Linked DNA regions of Homo sapiens: region 1 is linked to region 2. Evidence: fine-mapped expression QTL. A gene starts in region 2. The other region holds a variant in brackets. All regions are shown on one strand. Distances are between the middles of the regions.

Region 1 (16,519 bases), 59 kb after region 2:
GCATTAGTACACATTAGTTTGAAAATATCCTTTAGTTTTTCTATGGACTGGTAGTCATTGTTCTTGATCTTTTCTTTCATTTAAAATCCATTGGGTGTTTAATGATCATGGAGTAGCCAGGAGCAGTAAAATCAGTCACAGGAAATGAAAGAAAGCACTTGGATCTTTTCTCTGCAATTGTCTCGCCAGTTGATTCAAAGCTTCTTGAAGGGGTGGGGTATCTGTTCTACTTCTTCTTGTTTGGCTAAAGTGCTTGTGAGAGGCTTCTCACCGGGCAAGTCTAATCCCACAGGGGCGTGACACTGGAGGTCTTTTTCTGCCTCATTCTCCACCCCGTCTCAATCTCGCTTCTTTTTATCCTCCTTAACTCTTATCTGTTTTCTCCCCTTTTCTTCCCCTGGAACCTGCTTGTCTCCTTTCTTTCTCTTTTTCCACTTTCTGTCCTTTTGTTTGTCATGATTGTTTTTTGTCTTCGAAGAGGCTGGAGTTGTGCCCCGAGCTGCCCACGGAGAGTTCGGTGACTTCATTCCCTCCTGCTTTGAGGACCAGCTTCAAGGGCTTCTCTACATACTCCTGGTAGAGGTGTTTGTCCGACTTGAGCTTCTTGTGCTTGTGCTTCTTGTCCATGTCCGACCGGGCCCCTGTGCTCACCCCCCGCGCCAGGCCCAGGCAGTGCGGCGCTGCTTCCGGTCTGGGCCAGGCGAGCCGAGGGCGGGAGCGGGGCCCGCGAGGCCCCTCTCGAGAAGCTAAAAAACCCTCTTTCCTATAACTCCACCCCACCCCGCCCCCCACATTTTGACACTATGTTGTGTTAATTTTTATGTTTTTATATTGCCTATCTCTTAATGGGTTGCTATAAGTATTACTGTTTTTGGTAGATTTGTCTTTTGGACTTCATACCAAACAGAGTTACAAATGGATTGTACACTACAAATTGCAGTAATAGAGTATTCTGGTTTGTTTGTGTACTTAATTTTACCAGTGGGTTTTATACCTTTACAAGCTTTCTTTTTGTAAGTTAGTGTTTTTTTCTGTCTGGTGGAAGAACTCCCATGTGCATTTTTTTGTAAGGTGGTTCTGGTGGTGGTGAATTCTCTTAGCTTAAGTTTGTCTGGGAAAGACTATGTATTTGACTGGGCACAATGGCTCACACCTATAATCCTAGCACTTTGGGAGGCAGAGATGGGAGGATTGCTTGAGTCCAGGAGTTCAAAACCAGCATGGTCAACATAGCATGATTCCCATCACTACAAAAGAAGATTTAAAAAATAAAAAGACAAACCAAAAACCCTCTTTTTTATATTTGAAGGATAGCATTGCTCAATACTTTATTCTTAGATGGCATTTTTTTAAAGCACGTTGAAGATGGCATTCCACTCTTTCCTGGCCTTTATAGTTTCTCTTAAGATGTCTGTTGCCAGACAAGTTGGAGCACTTGTATACATCATTTACTTCTTTTCTCTTGCTGCTTTCTTTGTCCTTGACCTTTGAGTGTTTCATTATTATATAACTTGGGAGTAGTCTTATTTGCATCAAATCTATTTGGTGTTGTCTTACCTTTATTCCTGTACCTGGATATTTATCTTTTTCTCAAGTTTTTGGGATTTTTTTCTGTTATTTCTTGAAATAAGCTTTTTGCCCCTTTCCCTTGCTTAACAAGAGCCCTCACTCTTAAATACCAATAAATTTCTTAGATTTTGTCTTTAGAGGTAATTTTCTGTATCTTAAAGGCAGCCTTCATTCCTTTCCATTGGTTTTTTTCTTTTTTCTCCTCATGTATTTTCAAATAGCCTGTCTTTGAGCTCACTGACTTTTTTTTGTTTCATATATCCTGCTATTGAGAGACTTTAATGAATTTTTCAGTTCACCAAATGTATTTCTCAGTTTTGATTTCTGTTTGTTTTCTTTGTATTATTTCACTCTTCTTGTTAAATTTCTCTAATAAATTTCTGTATTACTTTTCTGTGTTGTCTTGTAGGTTATTTAGTTTCCATTGTGCTATTGAGAGTATCTAATGAATTTTTCTGTTCACCAAATGTATTTCTCAATTTCGATTTCTGTTTGGTTTTTTTTGTATTATTTTGATCTCCTTGCTAAATTTCTCTAATAAATTTCTTAATTACTTTTCTGCTTTGCCTTGTAAAAGTTACTGAATTTCCTTATACCTGGTATTTTGAATTCTTGATCAGAAAGCTCATGTCACTGTCTTCTTAGGGTCAGTCACTGGTTCCTTGCTTTGTCTGTTTGAGGTCATGGTTCCCTGTTTTCTGTTGTTTGTTGTGGATATACATCTGTGTCTTTGCATTCAAGGATTAGTTATTTATTCTAGTCTTCTCTATCTGGCTTGTTTTGGTTTTTATCGAATATGCTTGCTTAGAGATTCTTTGAAGTTTACCTGTTAATTTTCTTTCTTTTTTTTTTTTTCTTAAATCTGCTAGGTTGCTGCCTCCTTTTCAGCACCTAACCTCTGGGTAGAGGTTCATGTCCAATGAACCTGTGAAATGAACCTCTTAACAGTGTGGTGCTGCTGAACAGCCACTCCAACTTGGCATCTCTTTTGGCTGAGTTACATAGCAGAGTTTCCAGGACTAGGGATGGTAGTCCCACCTCCGACCTCTTCTCTTTATTTCTGGTGGTTTTCAGGGATTATTTCTCCCTTAGGTATTTCCACTGCTCCCAGTTATTAGGACAGGGATAGGTCTCTTGCCAACAAACCCAAGATGGTGGAGAAGCCAGTTGTCCACCTCAGTTATACTTTTTCCAGTGTAGCAACTCTGAGTTGGGAAAGTTTTCTGCATGCTTGGTGCTGGACAGATTGAGGGGAGGGGCACTGTGATTATGAAAGTCTAATTTGCTTTCTTTTGCTCAGAGTTTTTTCACTTCTTTGTGGCCTTGGGAACTGTCTCCTCATATTTGAGTTCGGGATATTGCTCATGATCGTGTCAGCACTGTATTTGTGGTTTTGGTTTCCTGTGGCAGTGAGTGAAGCCAGGTTACTTCTGTACCACCGTTTTACAACCAGAAGTCTCTGTCCATTTTAAAATTTTATTGTCTTTTTATTATTGAGTTGAAAGAGTTGTTTGTTCTAGATACAAGTCCCTTATGAAATATATGATTCACAACTTTTTTTTCATTCTGTGCATTGTCTTTTCAACTTTCTTTTAGACAGGTAAAAGCTTAAGGTCCTTTAGTATTCAGCTACCATAAAATATGGTTGAATAATTTACTAGACTTGCATATAATGTTAATTACCAATAATATTTTATTTATTTGCATTTGAAGGAGCATTTAGGTATTTATGTACAAATTTGACCAGACAGTAAGTTTGTTTTGATTAACTTTTGATATTGCTTTAAATTGAGATGAATTTTCATGTCATAATCAGAATTTTTTTTTGAGACTTTGGTTTATTTACCTTTCAATTAAAATACCACAAAAATTAATGTGTGTGACCATTCTGGCTAAATTATCTGAAACTAAAAAGTGTTTGTTTTACAAGCCAGAATTTTATTTTTCACTAAGGTTAATAACACTAATTATTTTTATGACGTTTAGTCTGAAAGGTGCACATTTTCTTGGAGATTTGTGCTTGAAACTACTGTTAGAAGCTTTGTTTTTTAAGACTGAGCTTTTTAGAAATAGTTGTACCATGGCGTGTGCCTTTGAGCAGTACCCATATAGTTTCATAGTTATTGAAAATCAAGGGAATTGTTGATTTACTTTCTATAACAATAATTGCAGATTAAATTGCTTATGAACTTTGGATACAACATTTCATCAGATTTCTGACATATTAATCATAAAAGAATCATATTAATCATCAAACTACTGTTGTTCAGTTTGGAAGTTGGCCCTTAACCCATTTATGCCTAGTGTTCCATTATTGGGCTGCTAAGCTTGTGGGAGTTATTTATATCCTACTGCTCAGGGTCATCACCAAAGTCTGATTTTTCACACACAAAAAATTGCAACCTCTGGCATAAATGGGTTAATTGATTCCCTTCTAGTTCCGTTCCATAAAGGGGAGATGTGAGGACATTATACATATCTTCATTGTTTATAAGGAGAAAGAAAATAGTTTATAAGGAGAAAGTAAGATTTAAATCCATCAAATTTTCAGCTAGACTCAGTTGAAAGCCTTCTTAGAGGCCACCCAATTTGAAAAAGACATCCTGTGCATCAGTTTTACAGTAACAAATTCTCGGTTTTCTGACATCAACTGTGGGTGTTCTACAATTGAATTCAATTCTGACACTAACTACTACTAATGTATACCCTACAGGGTAAGGGTTCTGTCCGATAGTACTGCTCACTTCAGACACCAGCCACAAATGGAGTCCCTAGGCTCCCTGCACTTCTGCCCTACCTGAGGCTATCCAGGAGCCCCCAGCTACCAGTCATCTCATTGGTACACATGTAAACACTTAACACTTAAAAGAATCCAAACGTTTTAGGAGCTGTGTACCAGGAAGAGGGACAAAGACCAAATATATATTTCTTCTTATATCATAGTATCATACCCCCTCTTGTAAATTTTTCATTTTAGTTATTGAACTTTTCAATTCTGGAATTTCTATTTGGTTCTTTTTTTATAATTTCTCTCTCTTCATTGATATTCTCTATTTGGTAAGATGTTGGTCTCATACTCTCCTTTAACTCTCTTGACATGTTTCTTTTAGTTTTTTGAAATAGCTGGCTTAAAATCTTTGTCCAGTAAGTCCAACACCTTGGCTTCTTCATGAACAGTTTCTGTTGTCTGCTTTTATATATATGTGTGCATATATATATATATATGGTGCCATATTTGCCTGTTTGTGTGTTTTATAATTTTATTTTTGTTGAAAACCAGACATTTTAAATTATGTAGCAGTTCTCAAGTTAGATTCCTCTCTACCCACCCAGTTTATTTTTGTTGTTGCTGCAGTTTATTTCTTCAGTGATTTTCATGGGCTTATTTTGTATAGTCTCTATTCTTTTTTCTTTTTTGAGATGGAGTCCCACTCTGTCGCCCAGGCTGGAGTGCAGTGGCGCAATCTCCGCTCACTGCAAGCTCCGCCTGCCGGGTTCGTGCCATTCTTCTGCCTCAGCCTCCCGAGGAGCTGGGACTACAGGTGCCCGCCACCACACCCGGCTAATTTTTTTTTGTATTTTTAGTAGAGACGGGGTTTCCATGTTCGCCAGGATGGTCTTGATCTCCTGACCTCGTAATCTGCCCGCCTCGGCCTCCCAAAACGCTGGGATTACAGGCATGAGCCACCGCGCCCGGCAGTCTCTATTTGAAATCTCTGCTCAGCTAGCATAGTGGTCAGTTAATGGTTGACCAGAGATTTCTTTAAATGCCTCTTTTCTCAGCTTTTGCTGAGGGGCTCTGTGAGTATGTTGGGGCAGAGCCTCAAGATCAACCAGAGGCAAAATATTAGTCTTCTTAGATCTTTCCTGGGCATGTACATAGCCCTACACATGCTTATGGCCTTCTAAATTCCCTTAACTGTATCAAAGCTTTTCCAAGCCCCCGGTGGACATTTCATTCCTGTTTGTACTTTTGAATTTTTTGGTCAGCCTCTTGTTAGACCCAACTGGTAAAATTTCTCCAGGCAGCTACAGCAATTAAATAATTGCTGTTGATTGTTTTCCACAAAGACCCTGCCGCATATAGGGCTCTTCACATAGTGTGAGCCCTTCTTCAAATCAAATAAAGGCAAGTGCTGGGAATGGAGTGTTGTTCAGCAAGCTGCCAGACAAGTCCAATAGTGGCAGTTTTCTGAGGGTAGGGCTTTGGAGGAGCTCCAAATGGGTTCCGGCTCCTCCAGTGGCTGCCTGGCTGCTGGTTTTTACAGCTGCTATGGATGCAAGGCTTTGATTTTCAAGACTGTTTTGAAGCTGCAGAGGGAGAGATCAGATTAGAACAAGTTAAAATGCCACAAAGCTTGCTGTTTTAGCATTCATCTGGTGTTCTTGAATAAATACGCCTTGAATTGTTGCAAACCTTTAATTTCCAGAGTTCTGAAAAAGTTGCTTTTGACAGTTTTTGCCAGTGTTCTTGTTGCTTTTATGGAGGAACAGATATTGAAAGGTCCTTACTCAGCAATTTTGTAAATGCCTCTTTTCAGTCCTATATACTTTTATCTACATCCTGCCACCAATCTCTGATCCAGCCTCTCGTTACTTGCCTATCTCTTATATTTCCACTGGATCCTTGGAACACTGGTTCCATGGCTAATATGTTTATATTATCAAATTTTCACTATTAGCTTCCCTTTCTTGCCTGGTAGCCCTCTCAGGGCTCTGTCTGTCACATTTCACATAAATCAAAATATTTAGTGCCTCTCTTAAATATCGGCTCAGGATTCTTGCCTAGGTCCCTTCTCTTGTATTGGGTATTGGATATTTTCCCTGAGAAATCTTACCCAATTGTTGCTCATACTGGCAAATCTGTCTTCTTCTCTAGCTCAGATCTCTTTCTTAAGCTCCATATCTGTATGTGTTTCATTTAAATATCCATTTAGAAATTCTATAGACATGTAAAATTGTATAAATGCAAAACAGAAGTCAACCCGCCCCTCTTTTACAGTTTTCTTTGAGTGACATTATCATCCGTCCAGTTGCCTAAGCCAAAAATAAGAGTCATCTTTGATTCCTTCTGCCTTATCCTACTCTCAAATTCCAGTTACCATAGCCTCTTGATTCTACTCCCTAAATCCTTGACCTTTTCTCCACCTCTACTGACATCTCGACTGAATTCCTCCAGCAGCCTCCTAAACAGATTTTCCTTTCTGTAGTTCTGTTGCTAGTGTCCCCACAATGTGTCCACAGGGAACTTTATAAAATGCGAATCTGTACAGGTCATTAGTACATGCATGTGCGCACACACACAAAAACACAGACTTTCTCTCACACACACACACACTGTTTTTCTCTCTCTCATACTCTTTTTCTTTCTCTCCTTCTCATACTCTTTTTCTTTTCTCTCCACTGCACTCCTTGTTTCATCCCACCTACACTTTTCCTGTTCCCAGATGCCATGTTTCTGTTGCTGTCAGGTTTCTGTACATACTGAAAACATTCTTCCTCATTTGCTTGGCTAAATCTGATTCATAGTTCAGATATCAGCTCAAATGTCACTTCCTCTGGTAAGCCTTCCTAGATTCTCACAAGTCTGAGTTAGATACTTGTGGATATAGCCATAGGATTTTGTGCTTCTGAGCACCTGTCATACCATACTGTAATTGCCTATTTATTCATCATTTTCTCCAAGTAGACTATAAAGTTAGTGGCTTTATAGTCATGAAGTTAGTGGCTGTGTTATAAGCAGCCTATGGTTTAGCACCAAACATTGGGTCTCCACAAATTACTTGAGTAGAGAAATTATGACTACATTTATGAATAAAGGAACCAACTATACCCTGCACTGTATATACAAAGACACATTAGACAAATGTATGAATAAAATAGACTTTTGAAACATCTGGTATTTCAGCGATATAGTTTCTCTTAGTAATTTGGGATTAATCATTTAAAGCCAATGATTCTAGATAAAGTTCTGTATATTTTATTTGAAGAAATAAAATGGCATAAATAAATTTGAAACTCCAAAGTATTATTTACAAATAAAAGGAGAAAATGAAAGGAAACTGTTATATATTATGCTTTGTTTTGCCTTTTAAGTTTCTGGGTTATTTAAAAGTAGGTAAATTCTTTCTTCCTCCCTTTTGTTTACACAAGTTGTATATTTAGTGGGGGGAAATATATATATATATATATATACGTATATATATATATATGTATATATATATATGTATATATATATATATGTGTATATATATATATATGTGTATATATATATATATGTGTATATATATATATATGTGTATATATATATAAAAGAATCACCCATATATATATAAAAGAATCACTCATCACCTGGTCTCATGTACTATGTTATTTTATAACTGATTTTCATCTGACTATAAAGACATCATAAACATTTTCTTATACTAGGAAATACACTTAAACATCTTCTGTTGCTGAGGTTAGCAAACTTTTTCTATAAAGAACAAGAAAGCACATATTTTAGGTTTTGAGGGTTGTAGGGTGTCTATTGCAACTGCTCAACTCTGTCTATAGCATAAGCAGCCATAGACCATTCTAAATGGCTGTGGTGTATTCTTATAAAACTTTATTTAGAAAATCAGGCAGGAAGCAGGATTTGCTACAGAGCCACAGAGCTATTATACAGATATAACATAATTTTACTTATTTCCCTATTTTTGGAAATTTAGATTATCTTCATTTTTTTCACTATTGTTAGTCATACCTCACATCTTAGTATCTGAATCTTCGTGTACATTTTTAAGTTTTTCTGTAAGATAAATTCTGAAAATCTAATTTCCAAGGCTAAGAGTACATCCTTACAACTTTTCTTTTTCCATGAGAATAGATAATTTAACACTTTCTGTGACTGAGTTTTGTTTAGTTCGTTTTGTGGTTTTGTGGAGATGGGAAAAGAAAGATGGAGTAAAATTTAGAAAGACAGAAGCAAAGAAAGACTGGAAGGAAACAGATGGAGTTAATGATAGTGATATAAAACTTGAGATGTTCCAGGAAGAAGAAAATATGAAAATTTTTGTAAACGTAAATGTTCTTGCTCACATACCAAGTTTTTCTGTTTTATAGCTCTGTCGAGGTTTGTTTAAAACCTTGTTTAGATTGAATTTGAGATTTGGGAGATGGGATATGCAAATTACACAATGAGTATTTCTTATTCTCCTAAGATACTCTTAGGCTATCACTATTTTGATTTTGATTACCCATCAGCTTTAAAAAAAAAAAAACTTTTCTATTCCAGATGATGATGGAGAAAGAAGTCTAATTAATTAGAGCAGAGATTGGCAAACTACTATCCATGGGCCAAATCCCTCATGTTGCGTGTTTTTGTAAATGAAGTTTTATTGTAACACGGTCATGCCCGTTCACTTAAGTATTGCATACAGCTGCTTCCAGGCTACAACAGCAGAGTTATGTAATTGTGTCAGATACAGCATGTCCCATAAAGCCTAAAATATTTACTGTCACCTTCCAGAAAAAGTTTTCAGACCCCCAAATTAGAGGAATGGTACATTTAGTCTTTGTGTTTATCGAAACTGAATCTACAAAAATACCCCAAGTAATTTTACTACAAATAGGCTAACAAGATTTTAGATGGGCAATTTAGAGACCAAATCAAGACACCTAAATTGCAGAATAAAATGTTGAAAAATGACAATAAGAAATGTTGGGATATAAAGGACTTAATGTTTTGTTTTGTTTTTGTTTTTTTTGAGATGGAGTCTCGCTCTGTCTCCCAGGCTGGAGTGCATTGGCGCGATCTTGGCTCACTGCAACCTCCGCCTCCCGGGTTC[A/G]CGCCATTCTCCTGCCTCAGCCTCCCGAGTGTCTGGGACTACAGGCACCTGGCTAATTTTTTTGTGTTTTTAGTGGAGAGGGGTTTCACCATGTTGGCCAGGATGGTCTTGATCTCCTGACCTCGTGATCTACCTGCCTCAGCCCCCAAAGTGCTGGGATTACAGGCGTGAGCCACCATGCCCAGCCAAGGACTTAATGTTTAGTATAATTCTGGGTTCCGTGAAAGATGAAATTCAGAGCACCCACATACTCCTTGTTGAAGAGGCATCTGCCTTTTGTTATGTACTTACACACAATGGGAAGTAGCCAGCTCCACAGAGTTTTGCCATGGTGTCAAGTTTTGGTGGCGCTTTTTAAAATAACTTTTGCAGCTTCTGAATTAGGGAACATCAATCAAATTGGAAAATTCAAACTCTGAAATTTTTGAAACCTGTGTACATGGGCTTGTTCAGCCACAGACGATCTTATTTCTCTTGGACTTGTTGTCTAACTTCAGTTTGCCATGATAGTAAGAGGGAACCTTCAGAGGAGGGGAAGGGGAGTTGTTGTTTAAAGAGTATGAAGTTTCAACTAGACATGATGAATAAGTTCTGGACATCAGTTGTACTGCATGGTGACTGTAGTTGATAATGTATTATATACTTGAAAATCGCTAAGAGATTAGATTTTAAATGCTCTTACCACAAAATAATAAGTATGTGAAGTGATGGATATGTTAGCTCGACTTAATCATTTCATGGTGTATACATATCAAAGTTTCATGTTGTATACCATATATATGTACAATTTTTATGTATCAGTTTACGTTAATAGAGTTGAAGGGGTAGGGATATTTTCTTTCCTTAAATCTATATGTTACCTAGAAATACCTAATACCCTGACTCCTTTAAGAATCCAAAATGGCCGGGCGCGGTGGCTCACGCCTGTAATCCCAGCACTTTGGAAGGCCGAGGCAGGTGGATCATGAGGTCAGGAGATCGAGACCATCCTGATTAACACGGTGAAACCCCGTCTCTACTAAAAAATACAAAAAATTAGCCGGGCATGGTGGCAGGCACCTGTAGTCCCAGCTACTCCGGAGGCTGAGGCAGGAGAACGGCGTGAGCCCGGGAGGTGGAGCTTGCAGCAAGCCGAGATCGCAACACTGCACTCCAGCCTGGGTGACAGAGCGAGACTCCATCTCAAAAAAAAAAAAGAGAATCCAAAATCATTTAGTAGAAGGTTTCAAAATACCATAACTTTCACTAATTTTATAAAAACATTCTTGAAAGCATCCTGTATGTGGAACTTCTAGAAGTATAGTGGAAAAGCGCCTGGACTGAAGTCACAAGTTCTTAATTAGACCACTAACTAGATGTTGAAAAAAGCTGGGTTTCTAGTACCAGCTACCTACCTCTGGACTTCTTTTAGGAGAGAAGCCACTAATTTTAATGCTAAATCCACTGATTTGGGGGCATTTTCTCACAATTTAACCTAATCCTAACTAACGGGAGTTGTAGTAGACTGGTTTATCTCTAAAGACTTTACAGCTCTGTATCTCCACACATTTGTGTGAGGTAGAGCTAGCGGAGGGAAATAAATAGAAGTGGTCTGTATCTTGTCAAGATAAAGCAAATTACAGAACTACAAATTTTATGGTAATAAAAGACATACTATTTCCAAAAAGCAGTTGACTCTCGTGTTCATTTTTACACATTTCTCTTTCCTTATTTAACTTTTGAGTTTTTTATTTTATCCTGTTTCTTTCATTTTCTCTTATATCATTCTTATTCTATATTAGAGCTGTTAGTGCTATGCCAAGAATTCCTTGTGTTGTGGTTGTTCTTCAGGAGGTTGTTCTTGAGGAAGGGTGATGAGTAAGGCACTGAGCCATCTCTAGCTGCAGGAGCACTGGAGAGAGAGGTACGTCTGTGTTGATAGAGTGACTACAGATTTGGATGGCACTTCAGGTCATTCAGGGTAGGAAAGTGCAATATGTTGGGGATCCTTCTCAACCCCACACACCCATGTCCTCCTCTAACCCTGATGGTAGTTACATTAATTGTATCAGAGTCCCTCTTTTTTCGTGGATGTGTTTCTTCAGATATTCAAAGGCTTTCACATCATTCCTTTGTCCTTAAGCAGTTATTCTGTTTTGTTGTGGGTTCTTTAATTCATTTAATAAATGTTTGTTAAGCACATACCATGTGTTTTTTGTTGAGTTCTGGGGACATAGTGTTCATTTGAACACAATAACACCTCCCTAAGAGTTTTTGCCATGAAATGGGAAAGTTAGATAAGGAAACAGGCAATTATAATAAAAAATAAAAACTGAGGAATTAAGGAAGCCAACATTGACTTTTTAAAAACATTGAACCAGCATGGTTAAATGGAAAGAGTATTGGTTTTAGGTTTTGTTGAGCTGGATTCTATTGCTTAATAGTTATGTGACTTTGGGAACGTTAACCTCCATCAATACTGCAAGATTATCCTAATTAGAAATACATAGGTAAAGCACTTACCCTATTACCTGCTGAGTAAATCATTTCTTCCTTTTTCCTAAATTGTACATCCCAAAATTGTTGTAGTTCTGAAGCCTATAAATAGAAAGGTAATTCTTCTGGTCCCTACTTCACAGGAGATGTGAAAAGTGGATATAAAATTATTTTTAAGACACTTTGTGAACACTCTGACCATAAAGAAACTATTAATACAGTCCAATTTTGTAATTGTTTCTTGTAAAATTTACCCAAAATTCCATTATTGAGATATATTGACTATAAAACAAATACCTTAGGAATTTACAGTATTGCTTGTAAAATATGGCATTGCACTAGTAATTCTGTAATCACTGGTCTTGCATTTGTCAACTTAAGAGGAAATAATTCACTGTCTTCCCACCTCCCTCAACCTGTAGTTTAGCATACCAGTTACTCTTAGTCAAATTGTGGTTTTTGTCCAGAAGGGTAATGGTTATAACATTTATTCATGAGATATTTAAAAAGCATTCAAGTAAGTCATCAGTAAATTGATTAAATCTATTAAGACTCATTAATATAGTTTGAATGTTCTCTATTTGAAGAATTGAAAAACTATGAAATTTAGGAATTAATACCATGTTGTATTTAGAAATGAAATAGCCAAACTGGAAACTGAAATTTGTATAACAGCAACACAATTTGTAATTTTTCAAAAGCACGACAGTTGGTAGTTCAAATCAGAATATTACAGTTCGGAGAATCAGATCTTGTTTCATTATGTGACTGATCTTTCTAAATTTGCTCTGCTTTATGTAATAACTGTTCCAGATTTATTTTTCTGTCGTAAGTGTACCTTAAAAATAAGAGAAGCTAATGTTATTCTTTATAAGAAATGTAAACATTAAGATATCAACACAGTGTAGAACTACTTTCTATATATTTTATATAAATCATTCTAAATCATAAATGGGAAATAGTGATCAAACAAATATTTACATTCCTACCAAAAGAAAAGGCCCAGTGAAGCAGAGTGAGGAGGGATAAGGGGTGGGGAAGAAGCCTGAGGCTTGTGTTGGCAGGAACAGCACAGTGAGAGCGGGTGACAGCATGAGAAAAATGGATGTGTTCTTCCATCACTGCTGTTCTCCTCTCTGTTTGGATTAGACAAATGGCACATACCCAAGGGGAACTAGGGACAATGCTCTGAGGACAGTAACCACTTCCATACAGCCCTGCCAGATTCATGAGAGCAATGGTGCATCTGCTTTTTGTTGCCATTGTTGTTACTTAATCTTGTCATGGACAGATTATCGTTTCTGTGGCATTTCTTTTGTGGGTTCTCACTCAAATTACTTTCTTTATCATGGCTGTGCTGGATTGTCTGTTGGCAAGTCAGCACCATTTACCCCTTCTGCACCTTGACTGATATATTGGTTTTCTGAGAAGTGTGCATGTTGGCCTTTTGTCTCCCCTTGTTCCATACCACCAAATATAAAATTTAGATACCCTGAAATCCATTATAGATAATTGATCTGTAGAGATTTTGTTTTGATTTGGTTTTGTCTTTTTTTTTTTCCTTTTAATGGCAAAATTTCATTTTTACCCTCCTTCCCACTGCAATAGCAAAATTCTGCACACTGGAACTGCTTTTACATTCCCCTTTCTCCCAGAGCTGCCTCTCTTTTAGGGAAGGCTCTTGTTTGAAAACATTAATGCCAAGACAGGCATTCATTGATTTATTTAGTAAACTTTTTGTGAATTTTTGTAACCTTCATAACACTGTGCTTATAACCTTCATAACACTGGTATTTATAGATGATTCAGTGAAGTACACAAGACTAGTTGGATTATGAGGGTTAAATAGTGAAAATACTTTCATCAAAACTACTGTTTAAGTCATACTGTTATACAATGCTTGTGTTTACACAATGTTTCCAAATGTTCTGTTGTAAAATGTAGTTAATACTGGTTACTTTGAACTATGGGTTAATTTTTTTCAACTCTTCCCTTAGATAAGCTGTGTTGCCATTAGAACATTTAAATGAGTTTCATTCTGAGTTTTGTATTGTTAAACTGTGTCTGGAAACTAAACTTTATAATGTGTTACATTTTAGGTCAGAAGACATGTCTTCATCTACATGGCATCTTTCCTTACCTCTATGTGCCATACGATGGTTATGGACAGCAGCCAGAAAGCTATCTTTCTCAGATGGCATTCAGTATCGACAGAGCACTTAATGTGGCTTTAGGCAATCCATCTTCCACTGCTCAGCATGTGTTCAAAGTGTCATTAGTATCAGGAATGTAAGTATATGATAATATATTTTATAATTTCTGTTTATGTTGCTATTCTATTTAGAGGAAAACATACTCAGTTGATAAACTCTATTTCTTTTACTTCTAGTCTAATGGAACTGTAGTGAATTCCTTGCTGTAACTTTTTAACATGAATTTTTATGGCAATGAAAGGTAGAGAGTCAACAGTGATTTTTGTTGTTTCCTTTCCCATTTCTCTGCTTCCTGTAACTATAGAAATTCATTAGTAATTCATATAGTAATTTATTCAGCAAATATTTCTTAAATACTTTTTATGTGCTAAGCACTGTTCTAGGCGTTTGGGATATACTGCTGGACAAAACAAAGAGCCCTGCCCATGTGGAAGTTACATTCTACTACGGGAAACAGATAATAACCAATAAATACAACATTAAATTAATTTATTTGCTATATGATAATTAGTCGTGTGGAAGGAAAGAATCTATACAAGCAGGATAAGAAGGAATAGTAGTGTGGGGTAAGGAAGTAGACTAGTGACAATTTTAGAGTAATCAGGGAATGTGTCATTGACAAAGTAACAACATCTGAGCAAAGACCTGAAGGAGGTAAGGGAGTAGGAACAGCATGGAAGCCAGGTGACTAGAGTGGAAGAGTAAAGGAGAGTTGGACTAAATGAGATAAGAGAGAGATGAGAGGGTAGAGACTGTGAGGACCAATGATTCTCAAAGTGTGGTTTCCATACTTTGGTTTCCTAGTATCACCTACTATCATTAGCTTTACCTAGTTTTACAGCCATGAGAATATACCTCTCAGATCTCCAAATACACAGAGAATGAGTGAATGGCCCCAGCTACTATACACTCAATTCCAGTCTGTCACTCCACATGAGCTGCTTTCCATAGGCTACTCTTACCCTATGACTGAGCATGGCAAAGATACTAAAGCAGATCTGTAAAACATCCCTCTGTCCACTTGAGATGAGACTGGTATCTAGGTCTGGTGGCTATGCCGGCTTCTTCTGGCTGCCTTCTCATTTTCTCTCACATTTGGCATTTACTTCTTGGAGGACTGGGACTGACACACCTGGGAACTTGGTAGAACTACATTCTTGGGGCCCAGCAATTTGTGTTTTAATAAAGCCTTTCTGATGATTCTTATGCATGCTTAAGTTTGTTAATCACTCAGTAGGCTAATGTAAGGACTTTGACTTTTACTGTAAGTTATTACATGATTTTGAGCAGCCAAGATCTGGCTTAAACTGGAAAGGATTACTTAAGCAACTGTATTAATAATAGATTGTAGGGGGACGAGAATAAGAGCAGGGAGAGAATTAGGACATTAATCTGGGTAAGAAAATATGGTGGCTTGATATTAAGGTAGAAAAGACCAAGGAATTAAAATTAAAACAAAAAAGAAAATAGTGTGGCTTGAACTAGGGTGGTAGCAGGGAAGTAATCATCAGCTTCTGGATCTATTCTGAAGGTTGAGTTAATGTATTAGCTTTGCTTTGTGTTTGGGTAAGGATTGTGAGAGAGGAATCAAGGTTGACTGCAAAAGTTTAAGGGTGTTCTGCTAGGAAGACGGAAGGTAGAGGTAGAGTCAACTGACAGGAAAGATCTGGAGCTCATACAGGAACATTTGAGTTGTTTTATGTCCATATGAAATCCAAGTGGAGACCTTAAATCTCTGCTTCCACCTTAATCTAGGCTTTCCTCTGGACCATGATAGTATCATTTTAATTGAATTTCCTTCTATTTTTATCTCATTCCAGAGCAGCAGAAGTACTCTTATACTGTAAATTTAAAATCATTTAAAAATTCTTGAGTGGCTTCATATTGTTAATAGAATACAATTTAAACTTCTAGCCATAACCTATGTGACCTCACCCCATCTACCTCTGAAACTCTGCTTTCTGTATTCCATTCAGAAACAGTGACTTTCTCTCAGTTCCTCTGCTATCCAAGTTGTTTCTCACCTAAGTTCTTTGTATGTACAATTTTCTTTCCTTGAGTGTTCTACCCTTCCCCAATCCTCCAGATCATTGACCTCTTCAGAGAAGTTTTCTTTGACTATCCCACGTAAAATAAGGTATTTTAAGTAGGGCATTATTATTATTACTGTTTTTATTATTCTGTATCTCAGCCCATTATTTGTTTTCTTTAGCACTTAATACAGTTTGCAGGTATTTTAATTTTTATTTATTTACTTAATTTTTATGTGTTTCTTCCACTAGCATGTAAACTGCATGCTAGTGCACTAGCATGTATGAGATGACTCAATAACTGTTTGGTTGGATAAATGAATGAGGTGAAAGTTTACACTCATCCTATAACAGGAGCAATTATGTTAGGGATAATTATCTACTTTATCTTTTAGTTTTGTTT
Region 2 (16,519 bases):
TTTTGAGTTCTCGCACCTCATAGGTCCACCAGAATCCTATGCTCATGAGGCTCAAGGCTCACTGCAGCCTTGACCTCCCCAAGCTCAAGCTATCCTTCCACCTCAGCCCCCAAGTAGCTGGGACTACAGGCATGCACCATCGCACCCAGCTAATTTTTGTATTTCTGGTAGAGATGGATTTTTGCCACGTTGCCCAGCCTGGTCTCGAACTCCTGGGCTCAGGCAATCCTCCCGCATTGGTCTCCCAAAGTGCTGTGATTACAGAGTTGAGCCACTGTGCCTGGCCCTGACAGTTAATATTCTTAAATGAAGAACTATACCTTAAAAAAAAATAGATATGATAAAACTAAATTCCAAATCCAATGTAATAAGAGTAGCATATCTTATTATGACAACTTTCTTAGTTTTTCCTGGGGGCTACCTGATGAAGATAATGAAGGTAAGATGGTTCTCTTTGCTTTTCTGTGGTGCTCTGCTCTTTTCTTTTTTTTTTTAAACTATCAGAAATTGCCATCTATCTGGAGTCAACTACCATTTACATGTGACACATAGAACCCACTAACCACCTTTAAATTGTTATCTCAAATATTTGTTTCATCATCAATGTAGGTGGTATTATTTATTTGACAATACGAAAAAAGTCATCATAATTCTGCTTTCCGGGATATGAGAATTTGAAATCCTTTTTAACTCAACTCTGTAGTGCTCATGGTTCATAGCTGTACACAGTGGAGGTCACTCTAGGAGTTTAGTGGAGAGCAGCAACTCCTCTTTGGGGACATTTAGAAATACATGGGGAATTTTTTATTGTTACAGTGGCATGTAGTGCATGGGGGCCAGGGATGTTAAATGTCCTGCACAATGAAAAACTGTTTCACCAAAAATGCCAGAAGCCCCATTTGAGAAACCCAAGCGCTCAGAGCCATCAACTTCATGAACATGCGACAAGTATAGTCACACAGGGCCCAGTGCTTGGTTTAATGCTCTGTAGTCACTGTCTTGAAAATTGTAATACTTTTATGTTTGACTATCTGTTTTGTAAGTCCAGTGGTATAGCAGAGCATAATATGCAAGCAGAGGTATGTATCCTTTCTTCCTTGCCGTTCTATTTGCATATGGTCTCCATGATGCCTCATGACAAAGGATTCTGGTGGACCTATGAGGTGCAGGAACTCAAGAGAGTAACAAAGTTAATACAAAACAAGCATGTAACATCTATGACTGAGTTAGTGGAGGCATAGACAGTTCCAAGAGGCTACACTTTTCATTCAAATCCGAACTTGCTTCAGGTGCAGAAAGAAGGCAACAGCATCTTTAAGAAACACAAGTGATTACATCACATCCTTCCTTACTCATGTGTTACTTACCACTATTAGCCAACCATTTACACAAAAAATGATGACAAAGAATGAAAGGGAAAGTAGGGCAACTCAGCACTCCCTTTCCTTTCATCCTTCCTTACTCATCAGTAAGCAGAAGATGGAGAATGTTGGTAGAATGTGTGCATATCAAGAAGGAAAACAAAAATAGTTTTGTTTTGTGCAGAGTTTACACTGCTCTGATAGCACAAAATACATATGCATTTACAAGCTATGAATTGTATAATTTTGGTGATTCCACATACAATTGAAATGCTCTTATATTTGCATTTTAAAACGGCATTACACAATATAAAGATGAATGGTAAAATTCATCCTAAGAATTAAAAAATTTAATTTTTCTTCTCATAGAATGACATTAAAAAGCAAATTTAAAAACACTATGACAAGTGGAGAGAGCGACGACAGAACAAAGAAAAAGCTTTATATTTTAATACAGATAATAGCACATTTTCCCCTGTGTTGGAACAAGAGGCCTTACGTTTTCATTTTGCTCTGGGCTCCACAAATTATGTAGCTGGCTGTGACTGGGCTGGTTGAAGCAAAAAGGGATTAAAAGATACTATTTAGTTCACAGATCTCTCAGAGGGCCAGAGAACCAGACTTGGATAAACCAAGCTAGAAACAACATCCAAGAAAAACCAAACCACAAAGAACACCCATCCCACATCACAAAGCTATTCTAGTGGAAACCCATCCCAGCAATGCCTGCCAGTCAGCACCTATGACTCTAGAACAGATGCCACAACTCCTCCCTACCTACCCAGAGGAACCAGATACCTCCTTCATGGTATTTGTCAGAAGATACTTATCTCCCTGAGTGCAGTTGAAGCATCATGTTGCTCGCTCTCACATCCATGTCCTGAATGGGTACATCTGATTGCTGGAAACTAGGTCATATACTGAAGCCAACTTCTGATTGTCAGCATCCTTTCCAACTAACTCCACATTTACTGAAGTCACTCTGGTAGAGGACACATTTGTACCATGTAGTCCCAACTAGTTGGCAGGTTGAGGTGGGAGGAGCCTAGCAGTTCAAGACCAGCCTGGGCAACATCGTGAGACCCTGTTCCTCAAAAAGAAAGCAAACCGAATTGGCCAATGCTACAAATTAGGGCCTTCCCTCTTCTCTAGCCATTGTTAAACATTTACTGATCACACCATTGATCTCACACCAGCAATCTAGCTGCAAAGGAGTCTGAGAACTGTAGTTTGTTTTCCAGCTTTTAAAGTACAGAAAAGTAAGCAAGAAGAGGGTTGGATGAATACTGAATAAGCCATCTTATAGTATCTGCCACAAAAGTATGGTAGCTACTACTGTCTGTTCTAGATTATAAACTGCTAACAGGCAGATGTTAACAGATGTTGAACAGTATTGGTAAAGGAGACTTGGTAGGCTTTTACTAAAGGCAGACATGCTAAGTACATGTCAGTGAACTAGAAGAGATGATTAAATGTTAATTGATATGATTAAAATACATTTTTAGGATGCTAGACTATAAACCTTATAAGGGAAGGGACCATGTCTGTTTTGTTTCTCACCATATCTCAAATCTCCTGGCAAGAAATAGCCACCTAAAAAAAAAAAGAAAGCACAGTCAGGTGTGGTGGCTCACACCTGCAATCCCAGCACTTTGGGAGGCCAAAGTAGGCAGATCGTGAGGTTAGGAGTTCGAGACCAGCCTGGCCAACATGGTGAAACCCCATCTCTACTAATAATACAAAAATTATCCAGGCATGGTGGCACATGCCTGTAGTCCCAGCTCCTCGGGAGGCTGAGGCAGGAGAATTACTTGAACCCGGGAGGTGGAGGTTGCAGTGAGCCAAGATTGTGCCACTGGACTCCAGCCTGGGTGACAGAGTGAGACTCTGTCTCAAAAAAAAAAAAAAAAAAAGCATTAAGGATATTAAGTATAGAGTTCAATTTTTGCATTTCTCATACTGTATGTAGATAAGTCAATTCCAAGTGATTTTACTGTTTCTCAATGAATCAGACTTCTGGATATGAACATTTTACTATATTTTCACATACATTATCTCATTTGAGCCTTATAACATCCCTGAGAAGTTAAAACAGGAATTACTATCCATTTCACAGATGAGGAAATAAATTCCAAAAAATAAGTGAGCACTTAGCTAAATGATGGTTTAATATTCACATTCTCTGACTCAAAATTCCAGAACTTTTTCTTACTTCAGGAAGAATATACATATAAAACACATTTGATAGTGGTTAATTAGGGGGCTATTGTCAGGTTTTCAATTTGAGCATCAACTTAAAACTAAATTACATGCAATGAACACAACATTCCTAATTTCATGCTGCAAATGTTTTTCTTCAAGAGTGAACATTCTTGGAGTTCTAGAAGGATTTGACTTGTGGTTGCAACTGCCTTTTCTTAAAGTAAATAATGTTGATTCAAGAGGTAAGGGGAAAGAAACCCTCTTCTAGAAATCGCAAATCTGTTAATTTGATGCTTTTACCATTTTCTAGTTAGGAATATTATAATTTAAAAGTTATGGATACACTGATTATAATATAGTACAAGGATTCTCAATTTTATTTTGCTTAAGAATCACGGGGTGGCAAGTAGTGTTGCTAACAATACAGATTCCCAGGCCCCATCCCCCAAAATATAATTCAGTAAGAGCCAAAATATCAACACTTAAAGAATTCTAGGTGTCATGGAACACTGAGAATCACTGATATTGTGTATCTGACATTCGGCGTGTACAAAATATTTATTTTATAAAAAATACATTTTAGCATGGTAGTCATATTTTAAAATCACTTCTATAGCCTTCTAAAATTTCAGATCAAGAGATTTTGCCTCTTAAAAATATTAGCTAATTTCCAGCATATTAGTAGAAATCTTGCCACGTATGTTTATAATCATGCTCTGAGGTTAAAAACTACAAGCTAATTTACTGTAGTAATCAGTCTCAAATCCCTCGGAGCGTAAGTTCTTATTATAGCATTTATATGTTAGGGAATTTATAGACAGCTTCTTACCAGTGAGCTGTCTCTTTGGGCCTTTTGATTTTCCTATTTGAAAATCCACAACGGTTCCAAACGAGTAGCTCTCACACCACTTCAAATACGTGGCAACCTGGTAACCACTAAAATGCACCTGTATAACACACAAATGTAAAAGAACGATCTCTACTTGGATGGGTTAGAAATGTGTCAAGGGTCCTAATTCAGGGGCAAATTTCGAACTTGAACCCACGCTTTCTGCCTCCTACAGCTTGCATCTTTTTGTTGAGAAGAAACCCTTCAGGATTAGTTTTTAAGAGAAACCTTCCCGTTTTACATATGTAGAAACTGAGCCCAAAGAAACAAAATTATTTGTCCAAGGTCACGCCCAATATCAGTGGCCAAGTCAGAGAGGAACCCCTTGTTTCCAATTTAATAGCCAAGCCAGCTGCATGTTACTACTCTTTAAAACAAAAATTCCCTAACTGCATCGCTTCACCCCCTCTCGATTTTTGAATAAAGTTGTTTATTCAAAACGGCCCTTCCCCACGGTGGTGCTTTTATGCCTTCGGGTAGTAAAACCTTCCATAACGTGTTAGTGAAAAACACGAGGAGGCCACGTCTAACGCGGTGACTTTCACAGGCCTTTTTCTTTGGCCAAAATTTTCTCGGAAAGACTGTTAATCCTACATTCCGCTGGGGGAGGAGCGACGAGGGAGGAGGGAGGTCACCGGCAGCTGACAAGTCCTTACATGTACTTGCGCGTGCCCGGGACGCAGCCTGCGGGGCCGAGGAAACCAACGAAGGATGTATTAGGACGAGAGGGAAGGAAGGGGGCGGGAGAAAAACACGGTAGTGGGAAATCCCTGTGCACTGGATCTGCCAACCCCTCGCAAAGCTGAGAAGAGCCGTGCGTGAATAAATCTCATTAAATGGCCCGGCGCAGACACTGCAGCAGCAAAGAGGAGGGGGCACCGCGGCTCGCGCGGCACGTTCGGGAAGGGGGAACGCCAGGGCGGCCCTTTTATAGGCCGAAGCCCGCGCCCGCGCGCCCCCACCCTTCGCACCGCCCCCGGGCCACGCGCGGAGCCGCGGCGTTACCTGAGAAGGGCCGGCTGCGTCCGCACCCGGCCCCGCCCGTTCCGCCGCCCGCCCGCCCTTCCCTCCCGCGAGGCCGCAGCGGCACGAGATCTGCGCCTCGCCTCCCTCCTCACGCGGGCGGATTTTCTTACCTTGTGAAAAACCGTCTCAGCGGCTGCCCCCGCCTCCTCTGCTGGATGTGAAATGGCGGTCGGCGAGGCAAGTGTGAGCATCGCAGCTCCTGCCAATCCTGCATAGCCGCCAAAACGGCCCCGAACACTGGCGCCCCCCTCCCGCAAGCCCCTCGGAGCCCATCCATGAGATCGGTGCTCCGCCGCCCCTTCCGCTGCCCCTCACCCAGGTGACCGTGCCCGCCAGCCGAGTCATCGATCCCGCGCGGGCGCTGCCGGCCGCCGGCCGCCTCCCTCGCCGCGTGCCCGGGGAGGGGGAGAAAGCCCCTTCTCGGCCCCCGCCCTCCGTGTCCCGCCCGGGCGCCCGCCCTCTCGCTCCTTTTCCCGCCGAGCCCCCTCCCCCGCACTACTCGCAGCCTCCCTTCGCCACACACACCCCCCTCTCCCCTCCCCCCAGTGGTTGCGTCCGTGACATCATCATCATGGCAACAAGAGCTGCAGCCTGGGACCGAGGAGCCCGTGTGATTCCCGGCGGTGGCGGCAGTGGCGGCAGCACCAGCACCGACGAAAGCTCGAGGGCTTCTCTCCTGCGGCCCCTTGCCGGGTGCTCCTGAGGAGGCGGCGGCAGCAGCGCCTACACCGCCCCGCCCGCCGCTCCTCGAGGTGCCTCTGTGTGAGGGGAGGGGGCCGTGCCGAGAAGGGGAGGGGGCGCCGCCGCCGCTGCGGAGGGAGCCGCCGCCGCTGCTGCTGCCGCTGCCGGGTCGCCAGTGAAGGGAGGCAGTGGCGGCGGCGGCGAACATGTTTTCAGTAAGGATAGTGACTGCAGACTACTACATGGCCAGCCCGCTGCAGGGGCTGGATACCTGCCAATCCCCCCTCACCCAGGCCCCTGTCAAGAAGGTGCCGGTGGTGCGAGTCTTCGGAGCGACCCCGGCAGGTAAGCGGGCGCCGGGCGCGGGGCGGGAGCGGGAGTCGGCGGGGCGCCGGGGCCGCCCTCCCCGCCGCGCACACGCGCACACGCCACCGGCGCCGGCCGTCTCCGTGGATCGCTGCCGCGTCTTCCCTCCCCTCCGCCCTCCTCGCCTTTTCTCTCGTGCGTGACAAGAGCCGCAAAAATGTGGGTCCGCGCGAGCGCTGCGCGGCGCCCCCACCCCCGGGCAGGGAGGTGGCGAGCGCCGCGTGTTTAGACTGCGTGTGGCGGCCGGGAGCGGGAGCCGCACTCCAGGGCGCGGGCCGGGAGAGCGAAAGCCGCGGGCGCCCCGGACGGCGGGCCAGGTGGCCGCGCCATGTCCATCGGTGGACGGGTTCGTAGGGCCTGCTCTGAGGTCGGTCGCTAGTGGGACATCCCTTGTGTCCCCCAAGTGCCGCTTTCTGGAAACGGGGAAGTGTCAGCCTTGTTGTCAGTCGCTCCCCATGGTCTCTTCTCACCCTCGCTCTCCTCTGCCAGTTCCGGAGATGCAGTGGGCCGGAGAGAGTGGCGCTTGGGGCCAGATAATCTTTCTCACTGGGGTGACCGTGTGGCTCTGCTGTGAGTGCAGGTCGTGACTCCTTAGAGTTTAGTGCCTGAGCGTCGGGGGACAGGGCAGCATCCTTAGGTGCAGTGCTTTCAGGAAATGTGCATCCATGGAAGTAGGAAATGCGTGTTTATGTTGCCCAACCTAAAACATCACACTTAATGGGGTGAATTTATTAGGAACCACAGCCAGACTCAGCAGCACAGACATTTTGAAATGCTCCTAGGCTGGGCTGTAGGATTGCGTTTTAAGTACAGGTATATATTTTTTAAACACAACTATGTTGAAGAAGGGATGGGAAGGGGAGACAGCCGTGACAGAAGGTACGTTCTCAAAAACTCCTGGGGCTTATGATAATATAAAAAAGATAGAGGCCCAGTTTACTAGGTGTTTTAAAATGGTTTTGCTTTTTTGCATGCTTTGAACTGCTTCCATGAAATAATGGAGTTCTAGGAAATAATGCATCTTAGGAAAGGTTGTTCTTCCCTCTAGCTATGAATTGCCCTATGGGATTTTAGATAGCATTTCCCACTTGATGCTCCTTGCCCTCATCACCATTCATCTTATTACTACAGTCAGTTTCTGTGGACTACCAAGATAATAGCGCTTTCCCAAACACAAGCACTCATTTTAAAGCAGTTATCTTTTAATGTGAATTCTCTTTGTTAAAATGTCAATGTTGTGAGATTTGGTAGCATATTCCTATTTAAACTAGTGAATATGATTTTGATATGAACCTTGAAAGATGGGGAATTTGAGTGCTTTTAACGTGTTGAAAGTGTAACACTTGAAACTTTGGAGGCTGGGAAATCGAGGCGATGAAGTGTTCTATAAGATAGGTTTTCTGCCCTTTTAAATATAGTGGTGCTGTCTTTGTTTCCAATTGGAATTTCAGTGTAATGCACTGTTCTCACTTCAGATGCAGAGGAAGGATAAAATAGTGAAGTTGATATGGCCCTGTTCAGCCAAATTTCCGAATCATAAAGTGACATGCTAATAGGATATACTGTGGCATTTCTGTGTATTACAGCTTGTATGGTTTGAGTTACTTTTCCACACATAATTTTTTCTCCTCCACACAAGTCATTAAATATGTTTTCCTGAGAGATAGTCAAGCTTTGTTGTATAGGAAAGTTTCGTTTGTGGAAATAAATGAGTTTCACTGTAAGCTAATGTAATTCTATTACGTGAGGAAATGTTCCTTAAAAAATAAAGAATATTATATACTGTTGTTTTCCTGAATATTTTTTAAAAGACACATTAACTATTTCCTATTTAATCCTTCATGGACATCCCACAATAGATTACCAGCACCTTAAAAAAAAAAAAAAAAACAAAAACGAAAAAACCAAAGACTAAAAACCCCCATTGGGGTTTTTTTTTTGGTACATACTTTGAAATTTATATTTTAAATGAATTAAAAAGTAACACTTTTTATATGTACATTGAAAGACATAAAACTTGATACAGAGAAAGTCAAATTTTAAATTGTTAAGGATTATCAAATTGAATTTGCCATGTAGTTCACAGTTTCCAACAAAATGTTTGTTTCAACAAGAAAAAATTTGAAGTCATTGGCATACATTTAGAGTTTACACTTTTCATAAACCAAGCCAGCATTTTTATTAGCACGTCAGAAACTCCCAGTGAGATTAATATTAATTAAACATAATCAAAAACTGCAGAATTACCTGCTTTTGAATTATCTCCCCAAGGAAAACTAGTCCAATAAAATAAAACTTGAAAATTATTAATATAAAAGAGAGGCCAGTCTGACTTAGTAAAACTCTGAATGCTAGAATTTTTAATGAAGACAGATTTATTTGAAAGTAAAGATGTAAACATAATGCAAAGATATAAACATGGTTTGTATTATATCTTTATAGTTTATATCTTTACTAACAAGTAAAATAAGGTAATAAAAATGTGTAACACATGATAAACCTATGCTACATAAAATAGCATAAACATACTTTTTTCATATATAAGAATTACTTTGGGAGGTCCTTAATGCTTTACTTTGGTTTGGAGAGAAAATGTTTTAAAATTGACTTTGCTTTACAAATGAGATCCTGAAAAATAGCAACCAAAGATATTTTTTCTCAAATGAAGTGGCCGTTTCAAAATTATATTACAAATTCTGAACTGATTGGATTAATACCCTTTTACTAGTTTAGTTTTTCTATTATTGCCTGAAAAGCATTTTTCTGCTTTAGAAAACAGTCCAGTTGACTTTTGATTGTTCTGTGTTTTGAGGACGTATCTTGAGTAATTTAAGAAATAAAGTGTTTTGGGTTTAAAAGCTCCCATGTCTTAAGTTGGTGAAATTTGAAAAGGTATTTTTAAAAAGAGGGATATTCAGGGCTGGGTGCTGTGGCTCATGCCTGTAATCCCAACACTTTGGAAGACAGAGGCAGGAGGATCGCTTGAACCCAGGAGTTGGAGACCAGCCTGGGCGACATAGTCTGTACAAAACAAACAAACAAACAAACAAAATTGGCTGGGCGTGGTGGTGTGCACCTGTAGTACTAGCTATTTGGAAAGCTGAGACAGGAGAATCGCTTCAGCCCAGAAGGTTGAGGCTGCAGTGAGCCAAGATCACGCCACTGCACTCCAGCCTGGGCAACAGAGCAAGAGCCTGTCTTAAAAAAAAAAAAAAAAAAGGCGGGGGGGGATATTCAGATTTGAATGGTAAATCCTGACTGATTTAATCCCTTGCCAACTGAGGATATTGATTCCTAAGGGAATCACTTAAAGTTTCTTCATCTGAGTTATGGAATTTTTTAAAAAACAAAAACAAATTTCCTCTCCATTTTTTTAACTAGTTTTTAAAATGTCTTGAACATTATTTTGACATAATCAAATTGAGCAGTATCATTTGTAGAATAAATTGTTAATTTTTTCTTTTAGAACAACATTTTGGTAACTTGTTTTAATGGAGGGAAGAAAGGTTGTGAATAAAGTATAGGACAATGTTTTTTCATTTAGATTTGAATATAGGTGTGACCACTCAGAGGATTCACTACAAATGAAATCATCAGGCTTCATTTAAGGATTTGACTGAGGTGGACTTGGGAAGCTGTCCATTTTCCACATCTCGACTTTTGCTTAGTTGCTTGATGTAACTCACTTCATGCTGAGTTTAGACAGCTCTCACAGTTTCCTCAGCACCAGGTTAAACAGAACTATCCTTTCAAAGAGCTTCCCTGCTGAGATGCAGAGTAGGAGTAAATAGAAGAGTGTGGGATGTCCACAAAGCAAGGAATTAAACAAAGTAGGCCAGACAGACTATAGAGGGAGCTGCTTGTCTTTAAGATTACTCTAAGGAACTCTGCCACTTCCTCTAGCTTAGTGAATATTTTGGTAGATTGTTCTAGATACTGTTAGCCATGAAATCAAGCTTTTCAACATAAGGAATTGATAATTCTGAAATGCTATATAAGTTTATGTAGATGCTTATCCAATTATAAATATATTCTCATTGTTTATATTTTATAAAATTAAATATAAGAAACTACCAGAATAACCTTTTTTTTTTTTTTTGGTAAATTGGAGTTAAATTTGCAATAAGAATAATTTTGAAAATTAGCGTGTATCAACAACTCAGGTTCAAAAGTTTCTCTAATAGAATCTGCTTTGTTCATAGTCTGTTTTTTACTAAGCTATTTAAAAATATTTTAAGATCATATAACACCTATTTGATTACAATTATTGGAGAGATTTTCAGGAACGCTATGGAGATGTAATGACTCATCACAAACAAATTGGTCACTTTTTTTAAAGTAGGTATTTGAAGCCCTGAGTAGCAAGTTGTTTTAGCTTTAAGTGCCTTAAGAACAGCTTTACTCTCCAGAAGCTCACAATGTAGTAGAGATGATGGGCATGTAAACGTAAGTCAAATGCAGTATGACTGGACTATAGAAATGTGTATAAGACAAAGCAAGGATTCATTGGGAGACATGTTCTATATCCAGGCAAAAAGGGGAGTCAGGGAAGACTTCGTGAAGGAAATATGGATTAGTCATGTTAAAGGAATTTTTAAGGAACTTAAAATTTCAGATAGAGGAACAGCTACAAGGTAATTGACAGATGAAGACAACTGCTCTTTGCAGGGCAGTTTGGCAATGTATATTAGAATCCTTGAAGTGTTCTTTTTTGACCCAGTAATTCTAGTTTTAGGGATTTTAATCTATGAGCATAAATCTTTTGGCAAATCTGGTTGTCTTTTGAATCCGTCTACTTCTTTTCATAATCCATCACCACCCTAAACTACTAGCATTTTTGGTCAGGTTTACTACAGTAGCCTCCTAATCTTGGTTTATCCCAATCTACTTTGTCCCCTTCTGATCTGTTTCCTACACTGTAATCAGAGGGATCTTTTAAAAATGCAAACCTGATTACATCACCCTACTGTTTGATATGCTTCAGTAGCTTTCCATTGCATTCAGGATATGGACAGAACTCTGTGTCTTATATGGTGGCATCTGCCTGTCTTACAAGGTCTTGCATAGTCTGGCCCTTACCTTTCTGTCTAGTCATGACTTGAGCCATGTTCTTGACTTACTCTTTTTGTTCCAGCCTTGTTGGCCTTATCTCAGTCCCTTGTTCTTGCCATGCTCCTTCCCACAGTGAGGGCTTTGTACCTGCCGTTGCCCCTGCTGAGAATGTTTTTACTTTTCTTTCACCTAAACTTCGATTTATCTTTCCTCAGGGAAGGCTTCCCTATCACAGACTCTCAGAGCACCATGAACTCTCCTCATAGCACTTGCTGTCATTGTAATTTCATATGTGTTGGAGATTAACATCTGTTTTTCCAAATAGATTGTAACCTCCAGAAATCCTGATAATGTGTTTCTTTTTCCTCACCATTATAGAGTTAATGCTTACCACAGTGCTTGAAACTCGTCTATTAATTCTTGGAACTCATTTGTGGCAAGGATTAATAAATAGATGATAATCATCACAGAGAACAACTCTAAGTGTTCAACAATTGGCAAATGGTTGCATAAACTGGGTATATTCATTTGGGAGGATGTGTTTAAAACATGTTGTAGAAGTATGTGTAATAACATGGGAAAGTGCTGTCATATTATGTGAAAAAATTAGTTTACAAAATAGTCACTTATTAAAAGTGTGGAAAAAAATACACCGAAGTATAAAAGTTGGTTATCTCTGGAAGGTATGTTTTATATTTTCAGATTTTTTACAGATAACATGTGCTGATTTTATAATTTAAAAAAACCATGTACAAAATTAAGGAAAAATTGATTTTCTAGATATGGTTCCAGAAATGTAGTGGGAGACATGAGATTCGTAATGGTCTCCAAAATATGTGTCAACCAAAATGCATGATTGCATGATGATCATATTGAACTTAATTATATAAATTCCATTTAGAAATTGCAAAATGATTCATAAATTAAAGCAAGCCAGTAATTTCTGGTTGTATTATTCTTACTTGTATGTAAAGTGGTTTTAATTTTAAAATGTTTTGAAAAGTAACATGGTTTTGGCACATGACAGCACTAAAACAGAGTAAAGACTAGAATTAACTTAAATATATATGAGAGCTTAATATAGGTTGAGCATCCCTTATCTAAAACTCCATAATCTGAAATCCTTCAAAATCTGAAATGTTTTGAACACCAACATGATGCCACAAGTAGAAAATTCCACACCTGACCTCATGATGGGTCGCAGTCAAAACTTCGTTTCAGGCTGGATGCAGTGGCTCATGTCTGTAATCCCAACACTTTGGGAGGCTAAGGTGGGAGGATTGCTTCAGCCCAGGAGTTCAAGACCAGCCTGGGCAACATGGAAAGACGCTATCTCTACAAAAAAATACAAAAGTTAGCCAGGCAGGGTGGTACACGTTTGTGGTTCCAGCTACTTGGGAGGCTGAGGCAGGAGGATCGCTTGAGCCCAGGAGGTGAAGGCTGCAGTGAGCCATGATTGTATGACTGCATTCCAGCCTGGGTGACAGAGCAAGTCCCTGTCTCAAAAACAATCAAAACAACTTTGTTTCATGTGTAACATTATTTAAAATTATATAAAATTACATTCAGGTTTGGTCCCATCCTCAGGATATCTCATGTATGTGCAAATATTCTAAAATCTGAAACACTTCTGGTCCCAAGCATTTCAGATAAGGGGTATTCAACTTGTATATGAAAATGGATCCCACCTTCATTTATGAGTAGGGAAAAGAAGAATTGTTTAATAAACAGTGTTGGGATAGCCAGTTAGTCATCTGGAAAAATAATGTTGGCTTCCAGAGGAGTTAAAGATTTAAATATGAAACAAAGAAACAAAAAAGGTAGGGTAATTATTTTTTACGTAATCCAGGATTGGTGAAGTCCTTTAATAGCATACTGGGTTGCTGGATTTTAGGACATAAAAATAAAATTCTGTACAGGGGAAAAAATCAAACAAAGTTAAAAGAGAAACAGACTAGTAAAACTTATTTGTATACTTCACAAAGGGCTAAGTTCCTCTTAATACAAAGAACTAGAAAATAATCCAGTAGAAAAATTAGCAAAGAGAATTCATATGAAAAAATGTACAACTTTATTTATAATATAATAAAGATGTAAATTCAAGCTACAACATACTCTTTGTCACCTATCAAATGAGCAAAGGTTATGTATAGTATAACTCGGGAAAGGTGAGAAGAGAAAATGGTCAGCCTTATACATTGCTGGTGGGATTATAAAGTATTCATACTCTATAGAAAGCAGTTTGAAAATGGTTTTCAAAAATTAAAACACAGATTTATTTCGTTCTAGTAATTCCATTATAGGATTTTATTCTCTAGAAGATTTTGCATATATGTCAAATAAATATCTAAGAATATTTGTGGCAGCATTATTTGTTACTGCAAAAGATTGGAAACATGCTAAACATATCAGTAGGGAAGTAGTTAGGTGAATTATGGTGTATATATTCAACAGAATACTAGTCAGCCTTTAAAAATAATGAGAGAATACTATGTGTACTGCTGTGGTGCTATGTCAAAGATATGAGGAAAAAAAGCAAGAGGCATGACTGCATGTGCAGTTTGCTGCCATTCGTGTGGTTAAAATATATATTTTTATATGCTATATATGCCTATGTATTAGAATAAAATTCTTTATTATAATAAAATCCATATGTGTGTGTGTGTGTGTGTGTGTGTGTGTGTGTGTATATATAGGCAGCTATAGAATGTAATGTGCATGGGAGGATACGGGAGAGTCTGATGACAGTAATTGCTCCAGTGTGTAGAAGTGGTTGCCTAGAGGACAAAGATGGACTAACTTTTAAAGTATACTGTTTGGTAATTTTTCAGTATTTTAAAATCATGTGCATGTAATACTATTCAAAGTTAATATTTTTAAGTTATGTTTTGCTTACAGGAATTGGTAAGAAGGAAAAAATAAGAGACCATAATAGTTGTTACAAACAAATGATTACTGCAATACTGTTTTTAACTTTAGTTATTGTTAGAGATCTTCTAATTCAAAGTTTTCAGTTGATGTTACATGGCTCACAGAAGGGTAGTCCTAGTAGAATGGGGGCTGAAGGAAGGCGTTGGGGTTCCTGTGAACAAATAGCATGGTGAGTGACAACCAACAGTTAAAAGCAGCATACTGCTCCTTTTGATATTTTAAGTGCATTAAATGAGGTGTGCCTTACTACTTGGAATCTACTTCAGCAGCCAGCCACAGTGTACAGCTGCCTTTTGTGGGAAAGGGATCATGGAATTGTTACTGGAGTTTGTATTCACGGTGCCGAAGGAACATGCCACCTACCACAAGGTGCAACCCACTTACAATGAGAGGACAAGGAAGCAGGGAGGGTGTCTCTGGTGGCCCAGCTCCAGGCCTGACTATCTGTATTCACCTGTATTGGATGCTGCTCACCACGTGCGTTTGATATGCTCTGCAAGGTGACTGCCTAATAGTGCATGTATGTTTGTCAGAAATAAAGCATGATTTTAATTTTGAAATATTCTTGATGTGAAAATGTTTGGTTTTGAAATTCATATTAAAATTTTCAGCATTACATGTGTCAAAAAATATCTACCATAACACTTTACATTTTTTCTTCTGTAATTAGAAAATATGATAATTTTTTTTCACCAGGCACTGTGTAGATGCCTCCAAATGCCCTCCTGTTGTCCAGTGTGCTAAATTTTTTTTTGCTGACAAGTTTTGTTTGCAATGTTAAAAGGGTTGAGAAGCATCATTCTAGTCAAATGTACTCATTTTGTATGAAGAAAACTGAAATCTACATAGCAGGCTCAGGGATTTGTCCAGTGTCCTACAGTTGGTTGGTGTGAGGCTGGATTTGAAAATTGGGGATCTTGGATCTTGACTCTTCAGCTCTCATCACCTCACACTGACCCCCTCTCCCCCCGAAACATGAGGGAATATTGGAGGAAGGCATTGATGATAATTGAAAGACAAAAATACAGAACCTCAGAGGAATTATTAAAAGAACTGCACATATGTAGTTCAGAAATCTTTGAGACCCTACTGTATCTAATAGTGCTTAGAATCTTCTTATATAATAATATTATTAATATTCTATAATCTAGAATAGATTATAGTAGGATTCGTTTTATGATGACTTGGGCTGTATCTTTAAGAAAACAAAAGATTATAGCAAAAGGAGTTTAGGGCAAACATAAATAAAAATTGATACTAAAATCGTATGTATGCTATTTCCAAAAAAGGGAGGAGGGAATATATGAGACCTTTCAAGTTCCTCTGGTACTATAATTACATTTTCTCTCATCTTGCTTTTGATTGGATTAGAATTCACGCAATTAAAGATAATCTAGGGCCAGGCACCTATAATCCCAGCACTTTGGGAAGCAGAGGCAGGAAGATTGCCTGAGCCCAGGATTTTGAGACCAGTCTGGGCAACATGGCAAGACCCCGTCTCTTTAAAAAAAAAAAAAAATCTAAGTGAAAAATGATTCAAGTCTAAATAGGTTGGGTTAAAGTAGGTTTTAGAGGATGTTGTCATTGGTGCTGGATATTTCAAAGAAATAGTTTGAACTTACTTATAAAGTAAGAAATGGGCCATGGTATGAGGTATGTCACTCTGGTATCTGGCTGCCATTTTAACATCATAGTGATAATAAGAGGAAATAATGGGAGTTAAGGAACAGTAAACTTTGGGTGAAATTGTGTTAACTTGTAATTTCCATGTAGATACAGATAAGGCAGGAATGAGTGTCTTAGGCAATTAGAAATAACTCAGTCTACTGTCCAAACATGATGTGGATTTTGAGACCAAAACAAATTATAAGTAAAAGTAAGACCCTCTTAATGACAGCCTATTTAACCTTTTTGGTGTTTTTGTTTGGTGTGTGTGTGTGTTTTCTGTCGTTCCTTCTAAGTTTTCCAGATGATCTTGTGTTTCTTCCAGCTCTCTGTGGGTTTTTAAATA

Direction of the effects. Positions count from the first base shown, and alleles are read on the strand shown. Sizes are in standard deviations (SD) of each study's normalised expression.
With allele G in place of A in region 1, the expression in prefrontal cortex of the gene that starts at base 6,036 in region 2 is lower (small effect, 0.29 SD a copy in CommonMind).

What was found. PIP is the estimated chance that this variant, and not a neighbour inherited with it, causes the effect.
Region 1: its variant is fine-mapped to the expression of REV3L in prefrontal cortex (CommonMind, PIP 0.95).

What each region holds. Positions count from the first base shown.
Region 1 is chr6:111,413,926-111,430,444 of GRCh38, reverse strand. REV3L (REV3 like, DNA directed polymerase zeta catalytic subunit) reads left to right here. Exons shown (of 32, transcript NM_001372078.1): 2 at 13,973-14,162. It also overlaps the pseudogene BRD7P4. Among named protein-coding and RNA genes, the nearest start is that of REV3L, 61 kb to the left of the region's middle. RefSeq lists a silencer at 2,852-3,052. The variant A/G (reference allele first, on the strand shown) is at 9,399.
Region 2 is chr6:111,472,735-111,489,253 of GRCh38, reverse strand. REV3L (REV3 like, DNA directed polymerase zeta catalytic subunit) reads left to right here and starts at 6,036. Exons shown (of 32, transcript NM_001372078.1): 1 at 6,036-6,504. The coding sequence starts at 6,366. It also overlaps TRAF3IP2-AS1. RefSeq lists enhancers at 1,075-1,124, 1,135-1,234, 4,890-5,249, 7,090-7,149, 9,888-10,612 and 1 more and silencers at 5,320-5,709, 5,750-5,979, 6,150-6,449, 6,510-6,579, 6,640-6,719.